Linked DNA regions of Homo sapiens. The protein of the gene in region 1 interacts with the protein of each later gene in a pairwise test. Each region holds a gene or a part of one and is shown in the gene's direction. Other genes may lie near its edges.

Region 1 (3,252 bases):
CTGGGGAGAATAGTCTTTACCAAGTTGTTGGATAACATCAGTAAAGTATATAAAACTCTTGTAACAGTGCCTGGCATAACATAAAAGTACTACTGGAATGTTAACTGCTATTATTACTACTTTAATCTGTGAAGGATGCTACTGATGTAATTTTCTATAGGAGCATTGCAGAAGCGGCATCTAGTCTATGTTACACAGAATACAGAGTTGTAAAAACAGAGATGAATCATGTGGTTAGAGGTTGCTATAATAGAAACAATAGGTTGACCACGCTTTAGACATATTACACCAAAATAGCTCTATGCTACCCAATGTGCAGTTCGCGGTTAATCATATGTGGCTATTTCAATTAGTAAAGACGAAGTAAAGTTGAAAAATTCCGTTCCCTAGGTTGCATTAGCCACATTTTAAGTGCTCAATGGCTCCATGTGGCCATTGATTTCCAAGATGGACAGCGTGGGTAATGAATATTCCCATTATTGCAGCAAGTCCTGTTGGAAAGCACTGGTATAGATTATGTTTTCAGTCACTGAGTCATTTACGCTTTTTACAGTAAAGCCGTAAAAGGAGTAGAGGCTGTCCTACAGCTACTTCTAAGCCTCTCAAAAGGAATAAAACATTGAGTCTACCAGATTAGAGCAACTAATACCTCCAAAGTGTGTGTCAATAGAATGAAAATAATGGGCATAGAAAAACACCACTGAGCTGGGCGTGGTGGCTCACACCTGTAATCCCAGCACTTTGAGAGGCCAAGGTGGGTGGATCAACCTGAGGTCAGGAGTTTGAAACCAGCCTGGCCGACATGGAGAAACACCATCTCTACTAAAAATAGAAAAATTAGCTGGGCATCATAGTGCACCTGTAATTCCAGCTACTTGGGAGGCTGAGGCACTAGAATCGCTTGAACCTGGGAGGTGGAGGTTGCAGTGAGCCAAGATTGTGCCACTGCACTCCAACCTGGGTGATGGAGTGAGATTCTGTCTCAAAACAAACAAACAAACAAACAAATAAAACAAACCTACAAACCATCTCAAAAAGTTTAAATTAAAAAGAAGAAGAAGAAGAAGAAAACCAGTAAGGCACTGACTTATGCAAAGACACTGGCCGATATTAGCTTCTGGTCGATATTAGCTTCTCTTTCTGTAATGAGGTTTGTCTTGAAGTATGATCCTAGGACCCACATGCATCAGAATTGCTTGTTTAAATGCAGGCTCCTGGGTCTCATGTCAGATTTATTGGGTCACACTCTCTTGGGTGGGGTTGGTAATCTGCTTTTTTTTTTTTTTTTTTTTTTAAAGAGAGGGTCTTGCTCTGTTACCCAGGCTGGAGTGCAGTGGTGCCATCATAACTCACTGCAGCCTTGACCTTCTGGCTCAAGTTATCCTCCCACCTCAGCTTTCCAAATAGCTGGGACCACAGGTACATGCTACCATGCCTAGGTAATTTTTTTACTTTTTGTAGAGGTGAGGTATTGCTATGTTGCCCAGGCTGGCAGTCTGCTTTTTTTTTTTTTTTTTTTTTTTTTTTGGAGACAGAGTCTCACTCTGTCACCCAGGCTGGAGTACAGTGGTGCAATAACGGCTTACTGCAACCTCCGCCTCCTGGGTTCAAGAAATTCTCCCATCTCAGCCTCCTGAGAAGCTGGGATTAAAGGTGCACGATAGCATGCCTGACTAATTTTTGTATTTTTAGTAGAGATGGGGTTTCACCATGTTGGCCAGGCTGGTCTCGAACTCCTGACCTCAGGTGATCCACCTGCCTTGGCCTCCCAAAGTGCTGGGATTACAGGTGTGAACCACTGCGCCCAGCCTGCAATCTGCTTTTTTACAAACTGGACCTCCAGATAATCTAGCCATTGAAGAACCACTGTTCTAACATCCAGTGCTTCTCAAAACTAGCCAGAAGGACACATCAGTGGAGTCCTTTCGGATTAAGGCTACTGATGATGACCAGGAGTGCTCTATGGCCTTAAAACCCAAGGTTCGTCCATAAGGATGAGCAACAGTGAAATTTACCCCTTAGTTTAATTGGTTGTCCAGCTCGTGGAAGTTGACTTTTTCTTGTGTTCTGTATTTCTGTTCTCTGCAGAGGTTCACAGCCTCCAGCATACTCCGCACACACATCAGGCAGCACTCCGGGGAGAAGCCCTTCAAATGCAAGTACTGTGGTAAATCTTTTGCATCCCATGCTGCCCATGACAGCCATGTCCGGCGTTCACACAAGGAGGATGATGGCTGCTCATGCAGCATCTGTGGGAAAATCTTCTCAGATCAAGAAACATTCTACTCCCACATGAAGTTTCATGAAGACTACTAGCCCTGCCAGGCACAATGACTCACGCCTGTAATCCCAGCACTTTGGGAGGCAGAGGTGGGTGGATCACTCAAGTCCAGGAGTTCGAGACCAGCCTGGGCAACATGGTGAAATCCTGTCTCTACCAAAAAAATACAAAAATCAGCTGGGGGTGGTGGCACATGCCTGTGGTTCCAGCCACTCAGGAGGTCGAGGTGGCAGGATGGTTTGAGCACAGGAGACGGAGGTTGCTGTGAGCTGAGATCGCCCCACTGCTTTTCAACCTGGGTGACAGAACCAGACCCTGTCTCAAAACAAAACAAAACAAAAAAAATGAGTAGCCCTCAAGAGTGTGGAGACAATGTAAAAACAAGAGATTCGGATTCTCTCTATTTCCTTTTATGGGTTATAGAAGTCCCTGCAGTTGGCTGTGTGTGGTGGCTCACGCCTGTTATTCCAACACTTTGGGAGGCCCAGATGGGCGGATCAGCTGAGGTCAGGAGTTCAAGACCATGCTGGCCAACATGGTGAAACCCCGTCTCTACTAAAAATGCAAAAATTAGCCTGGTGTGGTGGCACATGCCTGTAATACCAGCTACTTGGGAGGGGAATTGCTTGAACCCAGAGGCGGAGGTTGCAATGATCTGAGAAAAAGGTAGCTTTTTCTCTACTATTTGCCTTGGGCCCCCAATTATACAATGCGGTCATCACGTGTTACATTTCTTTATAGAAAAGATTCTTATACAGAGAGGCAGATCCCAACATGTTACCCAGGCTGGTCTCAAACTCCTGGGCTCAACTGATCCTCTGGCCTCAGCCTCCCAAAGTGCTGGGATTATAGGTGTGAGCCACTGCATCAGGCCTAGAACAAATCCTCTAAAAATTCGCTTATCATACTGTGCACTTGGCAGAAACAAAAACAAACAAAAACCCCACTAAATAAATAAATATTAATTTAAA
Region 2 (3,750 bases), on another chromosome or scaffold:
TACCAAAAAAATACAAAAAAAAAATAGCCAGGTGTGGTGGCTTGCATCTGTAGTCCCAGCTACTTGGGAGGCTGAGGCACAAGAATTGATTGAACTCAGGAGGTGGAGTTTGCAGGAAGCTGAGATCATGCCACTGCACTCCAGCCTGGGCAACAGAGCGAGACTCTGTCTCAAAAAATGTAAGTAATAAATAAATTAGAAGCGAAGGAGTTGCAACTGCAAATCGGGAGGGTCGGGAAAGAGCTTGCTATGGAGACACTGGACAAAAACTTGAGGGAGGCCAGCTCCTCCAGTTGCAGCTGTCTGAGGGAGGAGTGGTCCAGGCAGTGCCAACAGCAAGTGCAAAGGCCTCAAGGTGGGAACAGAAAGGAGACAAGCAGCTAGAGCAGGGTGAGGCACTCAGGTCCTTGCAGGCCACCAGGAGGACGTGGAATTCCCTGCGAGTGTGATGGGAAGGCTGCAGGGCTCTAAGCAGAGAGGGGACATGCAGGTTTCATTGTAAAAGGACCCCCTCTGGCTGCTCTGCAGATACTGCGCTCTGTAAAGGTCAAGGGCAGAAGCAGAGTCAGGGAGTGACTGCCGCCCCCTCACTTGTAATTGGCCCTTCTTCCTCCCAGGTCCGGAAGGTCCATTTCGACACCCAGGAGCACGGGCCTCAGGCCATCACGGGGCTGGAGCCCAGGGAAGTGCCTCTGCTCCACCAGCAGCAGGGCCAGGACCCGCTGGAGCGGGAGAACTTCCGACATGTGAGTGGCAGCCCAGCTAAGGGCTTCGGGGTGGGGCAGAGGGGCCACACCCGCCTCTTCCTCCCACCTCAAGACAAGTATTGCACTGACTCACCCAAGAAGCCAGCTCAGGGTGGGCTCAGGGCGCCAAGAAAGATGGGAGAGCAAAGGATTTGATATTGGCTATTTCCAAAATAGCCTCAATGTGGCTTCTCGCGATTTAACGCTACTCCTCTTCCCCCAGCCTTCCTCCTCCTGCTCACGGCCCCTCCTGGTCTCGGTCCCTCTGGGCCCCCCACTCATTACCAGGAGTCTGGTGTGGGGTGTGACGTGGTATTCATAGTCACAGGGGAACTGTGCTTTGTGCTGAAATTCCTGGCCCTGCGATGTCCCACCCCACAGAGACTTGTGTCCAGGGTGCTGTACTGGCCCACACAGGCTTCCTCAGAGCACAGAGAACCGAGGCGCCACTCCACCGCCGCCACACGCCTTCGGGGCCCTGGTGGGTCAGTGCCCCCACTCCTCCAACCTCTCTGTTCCAGGGCCCACGCTTCATGACGTCGGAGTACAATTCCAAGTATCTCAGGGACCCTCTAGACCAGCCAGGTAGGCCCTGTCTGAACTCACAGCTCCCTTCCCATCTTCCAATCCACCTCCCTACTTGCTACCCCAGGGGCCCTGGAGCTGGCCTAGGACTGAGAAGGCACCAGTGGAAGAAAGAAGGATGCACAGGTGGCTGGAGGGAAGCGCCTCTCCCGGGCTGACCTCAGTACCTTGGGCCTCTCAGGAGGGTGGCTTGGCCGGTGCATGCCCTTCCTGCTGCTCCCTCTCCTGTCCTCCGGCCTGGACTCTGGAATCCTCACCCTGCCACCCACGATCCTCATGGCGCAGGTCTCCAGGATCTTGGGATCCACTCCCTCTGCACCTGCTGGGACACTGAGCCTCTGGAGGACACATGGGTGGGCCAGGTGGCCTGGCAGCACACAGGGCATTTCTTTTGCAGATTTCTTGCAGAAGAAATCGATCGGCGCAAAGGAGGGGAGTGGCTTCACCAAACAGTCCCACCAGAGCCCCATTGTCTTCCAACCGCCCTCACAGGCCCTCCCTGGGGACCCTGTAAGTCGGCTGGGCTCCTGCTAGAACTTTAGGGGGCTTGAAGCCCTCCAGTCTCAGGGTTTCTAGCTTTCCTAAAGAATGTGAGCTGCAGAGCCCTTTGTTCAAACACAAGACGAAAGAGCTTAGGTGAAAACCACTGCTTTGGTCCAAGTCCCCCATTTATAGATGAGAAGACTGAGGTCCAAAGAGATGAAGGAGGTGTAGCCAATGTCATTCAGAGTTCAGACAAGAGCCCTGGCCTGCTGGTCCCATTCAGAGTCATGCCTTCCCCTGTCTTCTCCCCAAACACTTCCCTTTTCTCAGTGATGCCCATTTGAGCTGAGTCCTCCTCTGTGCTCAGCACAGCAGTGGCCTGGAGGCAGAGTGGGTGGGAGCCACCAGGGGCCCAGGCTGCCTCTGCGGGGCTGACATCCTCTGTGGGCCTATTTCCAGGCCCTCCTCCCAGGCCAGAGTGTCACCAAGTCAGACTTCCTCCCCAAGACTCACCTACATGTAAGCTGAGCTAGGGGGAGGCTGGGGACCGCCTGGCGGGGAGCAGTTAGAACATGGCTCTGGAAGGTGGTGGGGGAGGCAGCCACATCCTGGTGCCAGTGGCTGCTTTGCTCCCTCCAGGGAGATGAGTTCCTACCTGTGTTGGCCAGAGGCTCCAAGCGGGAAACAGCCTTCAGCCGAGGGAATGAAAGGATTCTGAACCCCAGAGTGAGTGGCCTTGGCGTCTTGCTCAGAGAAGGGAGAAGACAGGGAGGTTTCTGGGAAGAGGTGGCATTTGGGTCAGGCATTGAAGAATGAGAAGAATTAGGATATTTAGGGATGTGGAGGTAGGCCCTCAGGTGGAGGGTGAAGAGAGCCTGGGCCTTCCTGGGGGCTGGAAGATGAGGGGTGTGGTCTGAAATAGAATTGGCTGGAAGGGGAAGGGAGGGTCGCTGGGGCTGTGGACAGGTCACAGCTGTGTGTGCCTCTGCCTGCTCCCCTCTCCATCCCTGCTGCCTCAGGCTGGCCACCTCAGCCTCCCTTCTGGTGGTTCTGTGCCCTGCAGGTGCCCCCTCCCTGCCCAGAACCCAGCAGCGTGAGTCACCAGCAGTTTCAGCCACTTCATCGGATGCAACAGACAAACGTTGCCCTGCTTGGCCGGGAGACTGTGGGGAAAAAGGTGAGACTTGCTACACCTAGCCTCCACCCCCAAATCCCCACCCCTTCTGACTTGACAATTCCCCTGTCTACCCCTCTTGTGCAGGAGCCCACAGGGTTCAGCCTTAACAACCCCATGTATGTCCGGAGCCCCTGTGATCCTGACAGGGATCAGCGATACCTGACCACCTACAACCAAGGGTGAGGTCCGCTTCCTGGTCCAAAGCTGAAACCCATTTGAGAAACAGACTGAGACTGGGATAAGTAATGAGCTCACAGCCTCGTGGAGAAGATCAATGCTGAGTGAATATGGGTTCCCCAGAAGCATACCCTAAGCCAAGGATTGGAGTGCAAGCATGTTATCAGGCAGTTATTAGGCGTGTGGGAGTGGAGAAGAGGGATGAGGGAGGGAAGGCAGCAATAATGAGCATGTTACTAGGCCAGCTATCCCACTGGGAAAACTCTAGAAAACAGTGTAAAGCACACAACTCAGAACTACCCCAGTCAAAGGTGAGAGAGCTGGGGTATTTATACCCCCACATCCATCGGTCATTGGTTAAAGGCTATCCCCAGGGCAACATTAAAGCCCAGGTGCCTCCTTGCTCAGGCAAAGCAGCTTCTAGCATCCCAAGGGTAGCTTTCCCACAGAGATGCAGGGCATTGGTGGCCAGGCTGGTGGGCATGGAAAGAACAGGGCAGTGCGAGGGAGTCTGGAGCAGCAGCATCTGCTAAGACATTCCATCCAGCCAATGGTTGGTGGGCTCGATGCTCCCTCAGAAGG
Region 3 (3,750 bases), on another chromosome or scaffold:
AATCTTTTTATTGAAGTATAACAGTCATGCAGAAATGTACACAATCATAAGTCGATGGCTTTTCATGTCATTAAATATTCTTTTGCAACATTAATTTTTAAAAGTTGCAAGATATTCCACCCATAGATGTACCATAATTTAGTTAACTAACCCCTGTTGTAGAACTTCTGGCTTTTTCTAGTTTCCTCATCTCTCCCTCAGAAATGCTGCAGAGATGATTTACCTATATTTAACATTTTTGCGCCCATTTCCAATTTTTCCTTAGAATACAATTCTTTGGGGCAAAATTTCAGGGTCCAAGGTATGTGCATATTTTTAAATAAACTTTTTTATTTTAGGATAATTTTGGGTTTAGATAAAAATTATGAAGATTGTTACAGTTTCTGTGTAATTCACACTTTCTCCTATTATTCACTTTTTTTTTTTTTTTTTGTGACGGCTGAGTCTCACTCTGTCGCCCAGGCTGGAGTGCAGTGGCTCGATCTCTGCTCACTGCAACCTCCGCCTCCTGGGCTCAGGCGATGCTCTTGCCTTAGCCTCCTGAGTAGGGACTGGGACTACAGGCATGTGCCACCACACCTGGCTAATTTTTTGTATTTTTAGTAGAGACGGGGTTTCACCATGTTGGCCAGGCTGATCTCGAAATCCTGACCTCAGGTGATCCGCCCACCTCAACCTCCCAAAGTGCTGGAATTACAGGTGTGAGCCACCACACCAGGCTATTCACTCTTACAGAAGTATAACACATCTCACAATTGCAACCAATATTGATACGTTATTATTATTATTATTATTTTGAGACGGAGTTTCACTCTTGTAGACCAGGCTGGAGTGCAATGGTGCGATCTTGGCTCACTGCAACCTCCGCCTCCCAGGTGCAAGTGATTCTCCTGCCTCAGCCTCCCGAGTAGCTGGGATTACAGGCACGTGCCACCATGCCCATGTAATTTTTGTATTTTTAGCAGAGACAGGTTTTCACCCTGTTAGCCAGGATGGTCTCAATCCCCCAACCTCAGGTGATCCGCCTGCCTCGGCCTCCCAAAGTGCTGGGATTACAGGCGTGAGCCACCTCACCCGGCCCGATACATTATGATTAACTAAAGTTGATACTTTATCCAGATTTCCTTAGTTTTTACCTAATGTTCTTTTTTCAATTGCAGCGTCACACCCAGGACACCATATTACATTGTCATGCCTCCTTAGGCTCCTCTTGGCTCTGAGTTTCTTAGACTTCCCTTGCCTTTGCTGATCTTAACAATTTTGAAGAATACTGGTCATGCACTCTGCAGAATGTCCCTCAATTCGGGTTTGTCTGATTTTTTTTTCTTATAATTAGACTGGGTTATGAGATTTGGAAGGAAAGTACCATAAAGTGCCATTCTCATCATATATCATTCCACATACTATCAACATGATTTAGCACATAGTCTTGATCACCTGGCTGAATTACTGTTTGCCAGGTTTCTCCCCTGTAAAATCACTCATTTTCCCCTTTACAGATGTTGTACTTTTGGGAAGGAAGTCACTATGCACAGCCCACATTTAAGGAGGCAGAAGTTATGCTGCAGGATGGCTGTCTACATAAGTTATTTGAGATTCTTCTGTGGGGGATTTATCTCTTCTTCCTCATTCGTTAATTTATTCAATCACTTATATCGGCATGGGCTCATGAATATTTCTTTTGTACTTTGAGTTATAATCCAATATCACTTGTTTTATTGCTCAAGGCAATTTGAAATGTTCTGAGTAACTCAGTGCAAAACAACCTCTTCCAAAGGTTGTACCAGCTCACAGGGTAGACGTCATTAAGATCCATTTCCCCTCAACTTCACAGACCCATTAAAAAGGTCAGAAAGCAAGAGATAAGCTGACATCCCTGCCTAGCGCCCAATTTCTGGAAGCCCCTAAGGAAGATGAGGCCAGCATGCAGGGGTCTTTCCCCACGTGGGGCACCTCAACCCCTGAGACGCCCTTTCCCGGCCAGACCCTATTCAACACCCCTCCTTGTCCCCTGCCCCATCTCCTGGCTTCCTGTGGCTCCGCCCACCGCGGGGCGGAAGTGGGTGTGGCCACGGGCGGAAGCACTGGGTCAGGGGCCCAATCGTGCAGCCAGCCCCTCCCACTCGCCACCGCCCCACCCCTCCGGCCCAGACCGGAAATGAGGTCAGAGAGGGAAGCCCCGGCGGTGAGAGTCGGCCCAAAAAGCGGCGGCCGTTGGAGGTGGCTGCGGCAGCTGGTGAGGGGGAGGAATGGGTTGAGAGTGTTGGGGTCCTGGGGGCTAGTACCAGAGGGGATCGGAGCGCCAAGCCGCGGCTGAGCGGCTAAGGGCGTCTTGGGGCTGCGGCAGACGGCCGGAGGGTGAGGGTGGTGGGGCCTTGCTTTTCAGGGCCCTTGTCCCCATCCCTGGGGATGTGGGTCGGGCCGTCTCCGGGGCCACAGCCCCCTCTTCCCCTTTCTTCTTTCTGCCTCTCTGGGGCGGGCTGCAGCCTGAGGGCTTGGTGTCCCGAGCCATGGTCGCCCCAGCCCTCAGGGACGGGCCGGGGCGTGGTGGAGAGTCCTTCGAAACACAGTTTTTGTCATATATGTGGCCATGTTGCGACCCCCGATCCCGGAGGGAGCTCAGTCGCCAAGACTTGCATTTTGGCAGTTTCTGCCCTAGAAGAGCCGATCCCCGCCCCTCGTGAGCCCAAATGAGCAGTTGCCTCCTGCCTCTCCCACCTCCTACTCCGCCCCTCACTTCCACCCTGCTCCTGTCTCTCTTCTTACTTGCTGTCCACCAGCTACCCGTTCCTTCCTGTGCGTGACTCAGCCTCATCTCTGCCCGGGTGCGTGCCTGGCCGCCGGGTCCTCTCGAGAGTGTGCATCCGCGACTGGAGATGGGGAGTTCTAGGGTTCTTTTGTCACTACTGTTGGAATTACAGGCTTTGAGGCAGGAAAGGATTCTGCACAGGCATTCGACTGCAAGTTGTTTGATGACTTCGTTCCATGTTCAAGTTTGTGCTGTTCTGCCTGAGGTTTTTATTTGTTCTTTTGTTTTTGTTTTTTGTATTTTTGTTGCCTGAGTTTTTAAAGCAGTAATTCTTTATTAGGGAAGTAGATTTTGACATGCTGTTCCCACTTGTTTCTTTATTTTGGTCTTAGGGACAGTTGTCTCCCAAACCTCAATCATGGCATTTTAATCCACTTTTTTTTTTCCCATTTTTTCCCCTTCTTTTCACAGGTGTTGATAAACCACTTCTTAATGCTTAAAAGAACTTGGTCTTGTTTAAATGTATGTGCTTTTGGACACTTTGAGAAGCTTCGTTTGTATGGTAGTTTTGGAAGTAGGTGTCACTATTGCTCCTACAGGTGTGGCAGATAAGCCAGAGGACTGTTTTCCTGTCTTTAAGTTCATTGGCATAGGCACAGCATGAAAATAGGTTTTAGAAAGCCCTTTGCAAAGTGAAAACTGAATGAATGGGAATATGGTCAGAGAGTGGCACCACTTAGAATTTTAAGCTGATCTTGAAATACTTTGGGCATAGAGGCAAGAGAAAAGTGCTAAAAATTTAATATGTATTTAATTAGATGCTGTACAAATTAAATATTTCCCCTTAAGGGGGAATTTTGAAGATTGCTCCTACTACTGTCATTTCTTGAAATGTTTGTCTCTGAAGTGACCCCTGAAGTGTGATGTTTGGTTTGAGGATGAACAGAAAAATAAGAAATTTTGGAAAGCAGTTTGGCCAGAAATCTTAGAAACTTCACCCT

The links.
Region 2: the proteins of PRDM14 (region 1) and SAXO4 interact in binary tests that used the Homo sapiens proteins (3 or more experiments, as listed by UniProt).
Region 3: the proteins of PRDM14 (region 1) and GPATCH2L interact in binary tests that used the Homo sapiens proteins (3 or more experiments, as listed by UniProt).

The regions. Positions count from the first base shown.
Region 1 is NC_000008.11:70,051,141-70,054,392, reverse strand, and holds the end of PRDM14 (PR domain zinc finger protein 14), read left to right. Parts: intron 1-2,088; coding exon 2,089-2,316; 3' UTR 2,317-2,742; downstream 2,743-3,252. UniProt on the Homo sapiens protein: Transcription factor that has both positive and negative roles on transcription. Required for the maintenance of embryonic stem cell identity and the reacquisition of pluripotency in somatic cells.
Region 2 is NC_000011.10:61,484,071-61,487,820, forward strand, and holds part of SAXO4 (stabilizer of axonemal microtubules 4), read left to right. Parts: intron 1-617; coding exon 618-746; intron 747-1,267; coding exon 1,268-1,331; intron 1,332-1,728; coding exon 1,729-1,841; intron 1,842-2,273; coding exon 2,274-2,333; intron 2,334-2,453; coding exon 2,454-2,540; intron 2,541-2,877; coding exon 2,878-2,991; intron 2,992-3,075; coding exon 3,076-3,170; intron 3,171-3,750.
Region 3 is NC_000014.9:76,149,756-76,153,505, forward strand, and holds the start of GPATCH2L (G patch domain-containing protein 2-like), read left to right. Parts: upstream 1-2,166; 5' UTR 2,167-2,236; intron 2,237-2,780; exon of another isoform or gene 2,781-2,985; coding exon of another isoform or gene 2,986-3,014; intron 3,015-3,750.